2 linked regions of the Homo sapiens genome follow. The protein of the gene in region 1 interacts with the protein of each later gene in a biochemical or structural test. Each region holds a gene or a part of one and is shown on either strand. Other genes may lie near its edges.

Evidence for each region. The genes of interacting proteins can lie anywhere in the genome.
Region 2: the proteins of MYCT1 (region 1) and MARCHF1 form a complex in vitro, tested with the Homo sapiens proteins (one study listed by BioGRID).

The regions. Positions count from the first base shown.
Region 1 is NC_000006.12:152,692,996-152,701,208, reverse strand, and holds the start of MYCT1 (myc target protein 1), read right to left. Parts: upstream 3,313-8,213; 5' UTR 3,307-3,312; coding exon 3,111-3,306; intron 1-3,110. UniProt on the Homo sapiens protein: May regulate certain MYC target genes, MYC seems to be a direct upstream transcriptional activator. Does not seem to significantly affect growth cell capacity.
Region 2 is NC_000004.12:164,381,020-164,388,123, reverse strand, and holds the start of MARCHF1 (E3 ubiquitin-protein ligase MARCHF1), read left to right. Parts: upstream 1-4,104; 5' UTR 4,105-4,254; exon of another isoform or gene 4,255-4,937; intron 4,938-7,104. UniProt on the Homo sapiens protein: E3 ubiquitin-protein ligase that mediates ubiquitination of TFRC, CD86, FAS and MHC class II proteins, such as HLA-DR alpha and beta, and promotes their subsequent endocytosis and sorting to lysosomes via multivesicular bodies.

The sequences.
Region 1 (8,213 bases):
TGAGAATGAGTTGGTGAGGGAAAAAAATGAATGACTAGAATGTCCTTCTTAGAATTATCTCCCTGTCTGAAATTTATCTTTCTAGGAACAGATAGCACCTCATTTTTTTTCTGAGAAAGATTTAGGGATTATTTCTGCCATATATTGTTTTAACTCATATTATCAACCATTGCTATTTTATCATATGTTATCTTGTATTATTCCACAACTATATAGGTTTGTATGTGCATATGTAGCATATGTATAGACGCATAATTGCCTCCAAGAGCATAATCCTTTTGAGACAGACATTGTACTTTTGGTGAGAATTGAATTAAGTGAATAAATGCAAACTCCTGCAACCACATCTTCCCCCAACTTTTCACAAAGCTAGCCATAAGGAAAAAAATGCAAAGCAAGACAGCAGAAACAACCAAAACTACGTCTTCTACAGGACTCTCAAGTACTGAGAGAATAACTGAGTTCAGTATTTGTCTCCTATTGCCTTAGAGGAGGACATGGCAAATTTTCACGGGCCATGTTTCCTGCAGCTTTCATGGGAATGTTTATAGAGAAAGGAAGTGCGTTAAAGAAAGCAAAAATAGGGAGTGGAAGGTGATAGTCTGCATCTGTGTTGTCACTTTCAGGCTAACTTTGTTGCCAACCCTTGCACTTAAATGCTTGCACACCTTTAGGAAGTTTTAGTGGGTGATAGCTATGAAAATGCAAGCTATTGTTTTTGGTAATAACCCGATATTATTATGCCATCATTTAGCGCTCATTAAAGTAAACCAGAAAAGTTATATTGGGAAAACAACTTTTTCTGTACCTTAAAGTGTGCTACGTCTGAGCAATTTATATGGTTCAATGTACAAGTTTTCCTTTTCTAAGCTGTTTTTCTTTATTTTCCAAATTCAATGTGCCAAGCAGATGACTGATTTTGGAAGCAATAACAATGCATTACACTGCATTGTACAAGATTCTCAAAATAATATTTTTGAGGAGTCAGTGGTCAAAATAGACATCAATTTAGATACACAAAAGCAATGGAAATTTAAAAGATTGACATTTATATTTCAGGAAATGTATACATTTTATATGTTTATATTTTTATTCACATTTTATACTTCATATTTTTACCCCAGAGGCAATAATACAATCTTTTATATATTTTCCTAAAATCATCAAACATTATATCTGCTCTCCATGTTTCCATTGGCTTTGTTAATGTTTATCAATGTAACACTCCCCTTTCTGGTTTTCATTATTTTCATCTAATTTTCATTACAGTCACATAACAAGAGAAAGGAAAAACTAGTATTTGGCTTTGAAATAACAGGTTTTAATTCCCTCTTAAGCACAGATTTCCATATTAAAAATATCTAAATTTTTAGAATCAATAGGTGAACTCCAACTAAACATTCTCTTATTAATATCAAGTTTATTTTAATCTTTTAGTCAGTGAATAATGATTTGTTTTTTTAAGTAAACCTGAAATTTAATTTTGAATGGTTTGAAAAAAATAGATTGACTTCTACATATTAATTTTTGCAAAAACTACTTTACTTTTGAATAATTTATACAGAACACTTTTATAATGATGAATTTGATTTAGACAGACTCTAGCTCTTTTTCAGTGTGCATTTAGCACTTATTTTCTCTATAAGTGAGGACAGCAAATAATATTTTAACAAGCATATAATCAGACATCTACAATTCAAAGGCTTCTGTCTAGTGCTAGCTACCTAAAATAACCTATTACCAAAGCCTTTCTTTACAATGTACTAGAATAATCTTTTTTCTTCTTCTTAATTCTGTTACATAAATTTATTAGGAGCTCACCAATATCCTTCCTTTTCAGTCTTCCAGCAAACATAAATGTAGGTGAGAAAAAAAGAATGAGTTAATTCTTTTTTTTCTTATGCTGAATTTTAATATCTTTTAAAACCAATAAATATTTGTCCCCACATTTTTCATCTAAGAAAGTACATAGGTTAAAGGACTGGAGTGAATTCTTTTCATGCAAATTTCTGTGATGGTAGACATATAGATTGCTGGGAAAAGTCGGCCACTACTGCTCACTGTTTATGTGAAAGTTCCCAAAACCCCACCTTGAATCACAGCAGAAAGTCTGAATTGTACACTGAGAGGATTAAAAACTTGTTCTGGCCATATAAACAGATCTGTCCATATATACTATTTTCTTCATTAAAGTGTTTTTCTGAATTTAATTTAAATTGCCTCCTTTAATATAAAAATTTCCCTGAACCCAAGAGTACATGTCAACTCCCCATGTGAGCCCATCTTCTTTGTACCTCTAACCTGGAGCAACTGAGTTTTGACCTCAGCACAGTCCCATTGTCAACATCAGGGAACACTGGACTGTTAGCTGTGGCTGGACTCAGACAAAAAATTCTCCAAAAAATACTTTTGTATTGTTCTTTCCCCCCAACCCCTGTGATAGGATTCCATTGAATGTTACACGTGATGTTATTTCCACTTAATCTTTTCTACTATAGTTTTCTCAAATTTCATATTATTCCATGTTTTATTTGTTATACTCTAAAGTCATTCATTTATTTTACCTGTGTTATTGCACTTTAAATTCACTCATTTAAGTACAGATGTTATTAGGATTCACTTTGGAAATTAAAGCATATAACATTCACAACATAAGTGAAAATAGCCTCTATGGAAAATCTCAGTTTCATAAAATAAAATATATAATCTATAACCTTCAAACAAATGAAAGTTAATTTTTCCAACAAAATCTACATGCCATATTCTAAGCAGGAATTACCTCCACCTTATGTTTTTTATTTTTATCCTCACTATTTCCTAATTATATTTTGTAACACCAGCCAAAATCTGTACTTAATACCCAGATTCTTCTTGAATATCTTCATAGAACACTATAAAGACAAATAAATATATAAGTATATATTTATATCTATAAATATATTTCTGCTAATAAACGTATGAAATAGATTTCTGTTAATAAACATGAAAACTTTAAGTAATCACATTATAGTAAACAAAATGTCTCAGAGATTTTCACTGTTTTAATAATCACGCAGTGCATTTCTTACATCCTAATTTTAAATTTTAAACAGTAAAAGAAAATACCTTACCCCAAAAGTTTTCTGGCCATGGACTCCCTAAACTTGTTGTGTTATTAGCCATAATATCCACAAGAAATAGAAGAAAGAGAAGAAAAACAGAAAGAAAAACCAGTATGTCGAAAAAAAGCAGTTTGATTCTATCTCTTTGTAGTACAGCAAGAGAAAAATAATTTTTACACAACCCCTCATATACTTGTGTTCGCATAAAAGGAAATAAGTGTATCATGTTTCCTGCTTTTATACTCAAATTAGCAACTGTTTTTCTTATCTTGGAATTCCACATGGTTCCTGAGACACAAAACAATGTCCTTTTCATCATTTCCTCAGCTAAGTTCCTAAGTTCTCTCCTCTCAGCCACCTCCAAAACTGCTTTTAGGATAACAGGGTTGTGTGTGTGTGTGTGTGTTTGTGTGTGTGTGTGTGTGTGTTTCCTCATCCCCTACTGACATGGAAAGGAAGACTCCAAACTCTCAGCTACAGCACCTTGAATTAAATGTATACAGAATTGAGAAATAGACCACGTTCCAATGCTTGAAAATTAAATTTATATAGTAAATTGGGGGAAAGGACTATTCAAAACTCAGATACTTACTAAATTCTTTGTTGTTGTTGTTGTTGTTGTTTTTGAGACTTAGTCTCGCTCTGTCGCCCAGGCTGGAGTGCAGTGGTACGATCTCGGCTCACTGCAACCTGCCCCTCCCAGGTTCAAGCGATTCTCCTGCCTCAGCCTCCAGAGTAGCTGGGATTACAGGCGCGTGCCACCACACCCGGCTAATTTTTGTATTTTTACTAGAGATGGAGTTCCACCATGTTGGCCAGGCTGGTCATGAACTAGGCCTGACCTCAAGTGATCCACCTGCTTTGGCCTCCCAAAGTGCTGGGATTACAGCCATGCGCCACTGCGCTCGGCCACTATATTCTTAACATGTCTGTTTCTCTATTTGGTATACAAATTTTGAAAGTTATTTAATTCATTTCATAAATATCTAAGTGTAATTTATATAAAATTTGTGTTACTCTTTACTTAGTATTTAGTATGAAAAAACAGTTTCTACATTGAAGAAATATATTTAAAATCAAGGAGGGAAAACATAAATGCAAAATTTTTCATTACAAAGTTTGTTAAGTGCTATAACAAAGGGTACAACGATCTCAGGAATTTGTTTTTTATAGAGAAGTTTGAGAACTGATATAGGAAAGAGTTACATGAAACATTTTGAGAAACACAAGTTAGTTAACATTTCAAGAGTCTTTCCTCAAGCTTTGCTTGTTTAGACTGGATCCTCTGAGGACTTTGGAGGCACTGGAAATTGTGAATAACGTGTCAAACTGCACCTAGTAACTGCGCTAAACTGCATTCCATGATCTGGCTTCATCAATCTTTGAGTAACTCTAGCCTGAACTCTTGCATATATCTTGTATTAATCATATTCTAACTTATTAGTCATTAGAATATGACTTAGTGCAAAGTAGTATTCCTCTTTGTGAAGTCTGTAATATATTCCTGAGTAGTTCTAAGAAAACAACAAAAAAAGACAGTTATATTAATTTTTGCAGTCCTGCTTCTTCCAAAATGAGGTTGTTTCTGATCAGTCTCATTTTTTTGTGAATTTAAGTATAAATTTATTAGAAATTAAAATATAAATCATCTAAGAGAATTATAAAACGTCATAGAAAATTTAGAGAATTCACTGAGCAAATATAAAGACTCACCTCTATAATATTCTTGCTAAAGTTTATTTTCAAATAATCCAGTAAATAAAAGCTCCTACTATTACTTAACAGACAAAAAGGGCTTACATTTCAACAGTTGTCTTTACTTTTCAATATTGTTAACAAAGTTCATAAAAATAGAAAATTAAAAGAACATGTTATTTCTGAAGAAAATGTAATCTGGATGAAAGTATATTGAAATACTAATCACTTTACTGTTCTAAAAGCATCGAGTACGATTCTTAATTACTAAATGTATTTTTAAATACACATTTTGCATTATTAAAGGTTACCTGATTGCAATAAATCCTAATTTCAAAGGTGTATATAATTTCCTAAACACTGCATAGATTGCATTTTCCTTAAAATAAACCAAAATGAGTGGAATGGGTAACTGACATTGTCTCAACTGCCTTCTGTGCAGAAACAGAGCTCATTCCATTTCAGGGCTGGGATACAGGCTGACACTTCCTTTCATTGTTCTATGTTGAACTATGCAGATTTTCTCCCAATGGGTTTTCATTTTTGCAGATGGCCACAACCCAGTCAAAACTCTAAAGAAAATGTGTTTCTTAAATCAGTTTATGACCTAGGAATAGCTTGCTTGTGGACAGCACTGGCTCTTGTCTGTGTATGTAATTTGCTTGGTAAGGGTTCATACCTTTCCCTGGCATGGATCTATCTAAGTGAATGTTTATGTCTACGTGATTTTTGAGTCCCATGACTTGTCATGCCACAACAGGAACTTGATTTTTATCTTTACAAAACTGTTAGGTTTGCTTTTCTACTGCTCATTATTTCATAACCTGGGTCTTTAGGTCTGGGTTCTCCAGTGGTCATAAAGTACATTGAGAAGTTTGTTCTTGCCTCAGATATTCACATGACTTCCTCACTCTCCTCATTCACGTCTCTGGCCAGAAGTCACTCTTCAACAGGCACTCGCTAACCACCCTGTCTAAAGTGTTCCCACTTAAACCATGCTCTGTCTCCTGACCCTATGTTATTTATCATACCCTGACATTATGCTATATATGTGTCTTAGTCTGTTCCAGCTGCTATAACAAAATATCCTAAACTGGGTGGCTTTAAAACAACAGAAATTTATTTCTCAATTCTAGAGGCTGGGAAGTTTAAGATCAAGGGGTTGGCAGGTCAGTGTCTGTTGAGGGCTCGCTGTCTCGTTGACAGTCATCTTCTCGTTGTGATCCCACACTGTGCAAGGAGTGAAGGGTCACTTTCAGCCTCTTTTATAAGGACACTAATCCCATTCATGAGGGTTGGATAACCCAAATCACTCCCAAAGTTCCCACCTCTTCCTACCATCACCTTGGCGGGGAGGATTTCAACATATTAATTTTGGGGGAACGTAAGCATTCAGGGTACATAAAAATGCTTTGCTTTTTTGGTTGTGTTTTGTCTCTTCCACCAGCAATAAGTTTCATGAGGATAGGAGCTTTATTGATTTTGTTCACAAACTGAACTCCAGTGGCTGAAATAGTGCCTGGCATGCAATAGGCTCTTCATAAATATTTATTAAATAGGGAAATGAAATAATTTGAAGGGATCTCAAGATGAAAGTATTTTGGACACTCCAAGTTAATAAAAGTGTCACTGGACCCTAAAAAACAAGTTAAAAATCTCTATTCACATGCATTTTAATAGTTTTACATTTTAACTTATAACAATATCAAATGATACAAAAGAACATCATCACATTTAAGAGAAGGTACATATTTGACATTGAATTTCCTTTTTTAGCTTTATATTTTAAAACTATAATAGGTTTTATCTTCCCAATATTAAATTGACCCAAACAGTTTCAGTAAACTGGGAGTACTGTCAAAACCTATAAGAACTCCCCACAAAAAATTAAAATTTTAAATCTGTTTTTTAATTCAAGTTTTTAGAAAGTAACTAGGAGGATGACTAAAAATATGAACATGTCATTTTAACAGAGTTATGCCTTTTTTCTTCTTTGTTTACATGGTATAAATGTTGGTCTTCTTTTTCTTTCTCTTTAAATTCATTCACTTTGGTAGGGAGAATGACAAAATTAAAAATAGAGGTGATGATGACAACATTAAAATAGAGGTCAGGTGAAAATCTAGCTGTTAAGTTTTAAGATTTTACAAACTACAGTGGAAGTAAAGATAATTTCCCAAGGTCAGTGTCATTAATTTTTTTCTCAGTAAATAAGTCTTCATGAATGTCTGATTGTGGCTATGGAAAGTGATGATCAGATCTGAGAGGGAAATTGACTTAAATCTGAACAATGAGAGTCAGAGCTAGAGGCACAGGGAGAAAGTGCTGAAATCAGTTCTGATAGTTTTTTGGCTGAGTCTTCAGGGTTTTCTACATATACGGCTAAATCATCTGCAAATAAAAATATTTTTACTTCTTCTTTTCTGATGTGTATGCTTTGATTACATTTTCTTCTCTAGTCTCTGGCTAGACGTCCAGTACTACGTTAAATAGAGGTGGAAAAGTGGGCATTCTTGCCTTGTTCCCGGTCTTAAAGGAAAAGTTTTAAGTTTTTTTCCCATTGATTATTATGTTAGCTGTGGGCTTTTCATATATGGCTTTTATTATTCTTTCTATATCTGTTTCTCTGAGGGGCTTTATCATGAATTCATGTTGAATTTTCTCAAATGCTTTTTCTTCATCTATTGAGAAAATCGTGTATGGTTTTTAAGCTTCATTTTCTTAATGCAATGTGTCACATTGATTAATTTTCATATGTTGAATTCTCTTTCATCCCAGAGATAAATCCCACTTGATCATGGTGTATAATCCCTTTAATGCACTCTTGAATTTGGTTTGCTAGCATTTACTGAGGATTTTTGCATGTATTTTCACCAGGGATATTGGCCTATATTTTTCTTTTTTTTGTGGTAGGTTTGTCTGGCTTTGGTATTAGGGTGGTGGCCTCATAAAATGAGTTTAGAAGCATTCCCTCTCTTCTGTTTTTTTGTGAGAATGTAGGACAATTGTTATTCTTTGAATGTTTGAAATCAGTACATTTGCAGGCTACAAAATCAACATACAAAAATCAATGGTATTCTATACACAATGAAAAATCTGAAAAGGAAATTAAGAAAACAATTCCATTTACAATAGCATTAAAAAGAATAAAATACTTAGGAATAAACTTAACTAAAGAGGTGAAACATTTTTACACTGAAAATTATAACATTCTGATGAAGGAAATTAAAGAAAACCCAGGTAAATGAAAAGACATGCCAATGTCATCATTTGGAATTATTAATATTGTTACAATGCTCACTTGCCCAAAGTGATCTAAAGACTCAATGCAATCCCTATCAATATCTTAATGGTATTTGTTACAGAAATAGAAAAAAAATCTTAAGATTTATATGGAATCACAGAAGACCCTGTATA
Region 2 (7,104 bases), on another chromosome or scaffold:
CTTTTTCTTCATAAATAACTTTGAAAGCATTTCATTTGCAGGGATAATGGAAATAAAATTAGTGATGAATTTGTTAACTGATGGAAAAGTTCACAAAATCATATTATTTACTTCATCAAATAGAATATATATATGTGTGTATATATATGTATATATAATGTATGCATGTATATAACATTTTATTTTTTCATATTTCATTTTTTTCAGTGGAAAAAATACCTAAAATTTGCAAGTATGCTGTTATGAGGACACACTTTATATGTTTAGGCTGATATACTCAAATTTTAATTTGATTTGTTACTAGTTTAGTTGCCTGGACGATTTTTGTAACCTCTGTATGTCTCTGTTTCCTCATCTTCAAGAGAGGTTAATACACTTGTATCATGGGGTGATTTGAAGAGCAGATGGAGTAACATATAATAACTTAGCACAGTATTTGGCACATGATAAGGACTTACTGATATTATTTCTGTGTATTATGTATCAACAATTAACAAATTTGTATGTAGGAAAACTTGTTTTTAAAAGTCAAGGTTGGGCACAGTGGCTCAGGCCTGTAATCCCAGCACTCTGGGAGGCCAAGGTGGGCGGATCACCTGAGGTCAGGAGTTTGAAACCAGACTGGCCGACATGGTGAAACCCTGTCTCTACTAAAAATACAAAAAAAAAAAAAAAAAAAAAATTAGCTGGGTGTGGTGGCGCATGCCTGTGATCCCAGCTACTCGGGAGGCTGAGGCAGGAGAATTGCTTGAACCCAGGAGGCAGAGGTTGCGGTGAGCTGAGATCACACCACTGCACTCCATCCTGGGTGACAGAGCAAGACTCTGTCTCAATAAATAAATAAATAACAAATAAGAATAAAAATAAAAGTCAGTAGCTATAAATGAGTCTATCAATTTAAATGAAACCAGAGTATAAAAAGTTTATATTCTGTGGAATTCACAAATAAAAAATGTTAAAATATGTCTATTTTTCCCACCAAAGCACTTGCTGCTTTTGTGAAGAGACTCATGTATCAGTATGAAAATGGTACAGTAGAGCATCAATAATTGAGGCAGAAATAATATATCTACTCTAAATCTTCAATTCCAAGGTTTAATATATTCACCATTTAAATGTGATTCAAATGTAAGTTAGGTTTGCAAAATATGATTTCAGACTTTTTTTTGGCTAAGACTTACGATACTTTTACATTTTCTCATGTAACAATTAGATGTTTTAGTTATTTATAGCATCCATTTGGATAAAAATATTTCAAAATATTCAAACACCACGTTTTAAGAATTACAAATAAAAAAGCATGCAGTAGTAGTGGAAAATGTCAGTGGCACAGGCAAAGGTGTTAGTAGGTTGGGACACATTAGGAAAGAAGTTATTGTAGAGATACAGTAAATTCACTTTGCTAAGTTCAGGGTCCTGAGTGATTGCCACAGCACAGTATTTTCAATTCCCAAAAAAGTCCCAAATCACATACTGAAGATATTTTCACAGAAATAAATACATTATCATGTAAGAATGCATTTTTTCTTTAAAGTAAGAGATTTAGGTTTTGCTTTAATTCCTTAGAGCAGTGATGAAAAAGAAAAAAAGCTGAAGGATGCATTTTCCGATCTTTATGGCTACTATTATAAATTCCCCAGATCTGCTAACTATGACCTTCTTCTTGTCTCCATTCTTATGAATTAGTCCAGAGAATGCTGAAGAACTGGAAGATAAACAGAGGCAAAGAAGATAGATAGGGCATTAAAGAACCAATCTCCTAGGGAAGGTTTACAACTTGACCTTCTGATGCACTTAGAACAGTGTCATTAGCAGTACTAATTACTTTTTTCAAGCCATTAGATTGTTTTCCTATTCTCAAAGACTGCCATTACTTACATTTCCAAATTTTTACCTTTTCTCCTGGTTTACTTCCCATTTGGCCCCGATTGAAAAAAATCTTTATTATTTTGGTATTTAAAAATATTTGTTTCTAACATTTGTTCAATCATTTGATATGTTATTTTTTACTTATTATATAATGATATAAATACTAGTGATCCCTAAAATATTTTAATTTGAAAATAAAAGTGAACACATAGATTTCACAAAGTACATGCATCACAATTTTTTTATACTCTATTAGTTTTTAATTTTTATAGGTACATAGTGGGTATATATATTTATAGGATACATGAAATATTTTGATACAGGCATACCGTGTGTAATATTCACATCAGGGAAAATGGGGTATCATTGCCTCAAGAATTTATCATTTCTTTGTGTTATAAGCATTTCAATTATACTTTCAGTTATTTGAAAATATACAATAAATTGTTGTTGACTGTAGTCACTGTTGTGCTATCAAATACTAGATCTTCTTCATTCTATCTATCTATATTTTTGTACAGCCTCTGGTAACCATCACTTGAATCGCTATCTCTGTGAGTTCAGGTGTTTTAATTTTTAGCTCCCACAAATGAGTGAGAACATGCAAAGTCGGTCTTTTTTGTGCTCAGCTTATTTCACTTAAGGTAATGACCTCCAGTTCCTTCATGTTGTTGCAAATGACAGGATCTTATTCTCTTTTATGGCTGAATATTACTCCATTGTGTATATGTGCCATTATTTTCTTTATCCATTACACTGATAGTTTATTTTTTAAAATAATTTCTGATGCTGCTTTTTCATACTTATTACTTTTTCCTCAGAAAAGTCCCATTGGATTTCACAATTTCACAATGCAATAAGAAGCCTATCTGATAGTGAGTAGCCTTTAAATTGTTGTTGTTATTATTTTATTGAGTCCTCTTTGTATTTACAAAGATTAAGGAGTTTCTAACCGTATCTACACTTGTAATAAATGTTATTCTTAGTCTTCACACTTGTAAAGGATAATGGTGATGAATGCAGCGGCAGAGGCTGCACGTTCCCACCCAGCACTCTCACTGAAGACTGCCTAATCAGCACTGGCTGCTGGTACTTTTCTCTGCAAGCTTAGTCTCTTCCAGGAATGACAGGTGGTAGGTAATCCTGGGAACTCAAGAGCCTCCTTGAAGCTTGGACTGATTAGAGCACAAACCATGAGCTGTTGAAATCTGGTCCCTGAACAGGAGAGTTTTTGACATGAAGCTGCTCTAGATTGCTGTAGGGCTGGGTCTCAGATCTGGTGTATCTGCCTGTTTCCATGAAAAGAGCGGAATCTTCAAAAATACTCAGGCTGTTTGTCTATTCCTCTAATAAAACTTCTATTGATGTTATATAGAATCTTGAGCAAAAGATTTGGCATCGCACCTTTTATGAGTTTCAATAAACCTTGTGATTTAAATAGTTTCATCATTGATGACAGTCTTTGGGTGAGGCCACAAGAGAGTCGCTTCTCGAGTGTCCATTAGTATATGGTGGGAAGACAGGAGGTCAATACTAAGGCTAGGAGTGAATTGCTACTGGTGCCTTCTTGCCTCAGACCAGCGGTCTTTTCGGTGTTCATGTCATAGATTGTTGAGGTCCCCTCGTTGTTTAATGTTTTGCCTCAGACTCCCGCCTGTAAACAGTACACATCTTTCTCCCTCACTTTAGCTGCTCATCATTTAAGCTGTCATTGGTCAGACATCCTAAACTTTCTCATTGTGACTAGGGCTCTGAGGGTTCCAGGGGTTCTAATTATTATCGTGGCTGCAGTGTAGGTGTCCATCACCGAGATGGGGCACCTGAGCTACTGAGCAGCCAGAAAAAAACTTTCTCCTTATCCTTGGCATCTGCCATCAGTTTAAGTACTGATTTAGGAATCTTTACGGCAAAGAAGAGGCTCTTCATCCCCGGCCCCATCCCCACCGCGCCCACCCGGCCCACATACACCCTCGGAGCCTGCTTTCCGCAGACTCCCCTATGTCCTGTCCTTGACTCCAGTTAACCTGGAGATGCTAGTTCTGGGAACTCCTAGAGGCTCTGTTGCCTCCTCCGCCTGCTCTGCGTTCCCCGCGTGAGCGCTGGATTATTCCAGTCTTTGAGCATGGCAGATTTCCACTGGATGACATCATGGGAGCCCAGTGAATGCCGGCTCAGAGAGGGGGACGGAGAAGGGGAGGGGGAGCAGAGGAGGGGAGAGGACTGGGGAGCCGAGCCAGAGCCGGGCTGCCTGCCACCCGGCTGCTCGTCCGCTAGCTGGGGAGGAGCGCTCCACCCGCAACTGACAAAGGATGGGAGAATGCCCGCGCCCCGGGATGCCGGCCGCACGCAGCCTGGCGGCCGCCTGAGCTACTTCACCCTCCGCCGGTAAGTGACTGCAAACATCATTCATTCAATCAGCCTCACTGGGAGCCCCTTCTCTCCGGCTGGTAGTCCTGGGCGGCTTGTCCCTGATCCCGAGCGGGGCTTGGCACAGCATCAGCCCTGGAGGGCAGGCAGCAGGTGCCTTTGCCTGGTGGGTCCACTGGGGAGCGTGGCTGGGGTTCGCGGCGGGTGCTGCCACCCAACCTGCGGGCGGCGGGCTCGCCCAGTAGGCGCCTCTCTGGTGAGAGGAGGCGGCTCCAGCCCGCAGCCTGGGGTAGTTGCTACTATTGGCCCCCAGCGCCCGCTCTGCGCGCGCGCCGTTTCTGGCGGATCCCCAGTGCGCGGCGCGCTGTTTACACCGGCGTGGTACTAGTCACGGAGCCGCACCCCTCGGAAAGCGCGGAGTCGATGACAGCCACTTCACAGGCTCACGCGCTCCTAGTGTGGGCTTGAAGGGGACGGGGACCGATTACCAAAGGAGAGCGCTGAGTACGGAAGACACAGGGCAGCCTTTGTCTTGGGTTTAGCGCTGATGCGCTCAACCCTGAGTCGGGTTCACTGCAACTGTTGTGTCCGATTTCGGTTCCCTGCAACCGCCCTCCTGGGCGAGAGATGTCATTGTGTTCCTGCGGCCAGCGGGACTGAGAGCTGGGACTTAAGACGCCAGGAGGGTCCTGCGCTCACGGGTGAGTGTCGCAGTTATCCAGGTGCTGAGGGAGTTTCTGGAGCTCCAGGAAGTGGAGTGACCAGTCGAGGCAGAGAGACGCCCAAGTTTTATCCCCAAATGGTGTGAGGGAAATGGCAAAGTTAAGGGAGACTCACTCTCGCTCTTTTCTCTGGTTTCTGAAGCGCTGATTTTGGAGATTTGTGACAGGTGAATGGAATCAGAGGCATGGCCAATATGTAGTTAGAGAGCCTCACGTTTTCCTGGCAATTCTTATTGTTATTCAGTAGTTCCAGAAAAGATTTGCTTGCTAAACATTTTTGAGATCAAAATGTTTTCTATTATAGAGCTCTGTGGGTTTGACGAAAAAAGATTCTGAACCTGCTCAGGTACCTTAGTTTAGAGTTGTCTCGCCTATAAGTGCTATATAGCCAACATGCCAACACCCAACCCCCTGGCTTTTTGCTTGGCGGACACAGGTTTTATTGATGAATTCCTTGTTTAGGAGGTTCAATTTTCAGATCACAAGGAAGCGGTGGTACCTATCAGAACATCTGTTTCTAATGTCAATGTGTTTACAAAAGGAATATCTCGTGAAAAAGATGGAAAGAAGTGAAAGTTTGCTACTTTGGGGGTTCAGTGACTTTTTCTGTTTTCATCCACTACAATCGAAAATATTTAAACTTTAAATAGTAATTTTGTATGTATGAATTTAATGTATATTAAATGTAAATAATCCTTGAACATTAAGGAGATTCTTGGTATACCAGTTTGGTATCCCAGCATCTAACATAATGCTATGGTATAAGAAAGCAACAATCACAATAATAATTCAAAGGGTTATTTTATTTTTCTTGAAAGAGGCTAATTTTTCTTCAGATGATTTTTTTTCTTTAAAGATAGATGATTCTAATGAAGCTTTTCTGAAACAGGATTGAAATAATTTTTCTTAGTGATTGCTCTTTTGATAAAGTTTGAGTCTTTTCAGAACAGATTTGATAGAAAATTATTGGAATAATCAATGTGGTGGAAGTTAAAAAGAAACTGGGTGAGATAATACAGGGAGGCTTTACTAAATATGAATGGTGGGACTATCAGAAGGTGCTGTGTCAGTTTTGATTTTGGAAAAGCTCATTGTAGCTTTTACATGCGTATCTCTACTGGGAAGTGCATAATTATATGTCTGATTATGTCACGCTATGTTGAGAGACCAATGTTATGAGCAAAGAGCTTGTTTTAATCCAGGACTTATGGGGTTGTCAGCAACGTTTTCTTCTGTGATACAGTTTTTTTTATTTCATTGTTTCTTGACTAATTGTCACAATAGGCTCCACCTGTTTTATCTGAAGTCGTCTTTCTAACTTTGTTGTACTATGTTTTTATGATAATGGGGTTTTACTTTAAGGTTCTTAGAGAACCTGTTGCTCATGTTGACTACTTTCCTCAAGTATTGTAATAGCAAAAACTCTTTTTGAAATAGACTTATGAACGTACGAGCTTCTGACGTGCTTACATGATGGGGTGTACACTATATAAAAATCTACATTTACATACAATATGTGTATAACTCTGATCAGATAATCAGCTAGCAATGATCAACAGGAGGTACTGTGGTGTTTGGCTCATGGTTTTTGGCATATGATATTACCTTTAGCGATAAGATGTTTTACCTCCTTAACATGGTAAATAAAAATGTATATTGAGAAGAACAGATTACATTTTATGTATGAAATCTTTAATTTTATTTCAAAAATATTTTATCCAAGAAGGTCAAAAGTACATAGATTCTTCACATTCCACTAGAATACTGAGAAAATTTCTCAGAAAGTATAAGCATATTATAAATAGATATAATTTGACTTATTTGATAGCTAGTACAATATTATTTTTAAAACCACATGGAGTAAAATAGTGTCCTTGAACTAGAGAGTATTCTCATAATGTTCTTTAATGTATTTCACACATACTTTGCCTATTTTGTTGCACAAGGGCTCTTAACTGGGCAAGGTGAGAAAAAGGAGGAAGTTGCATTATAGGGCAAAAATAAAGCCATAGCACAAAGCCCAGGGCAGGCAATAGTGATGTTCCAAGGTCACCGAAAAACATGATGTCAGGACACTGGGAAGTATCCATGGAAAGATCCTGTATGAAGAATAAGTTTATGCTGTTTGACGACCTCTTGCTTTCAT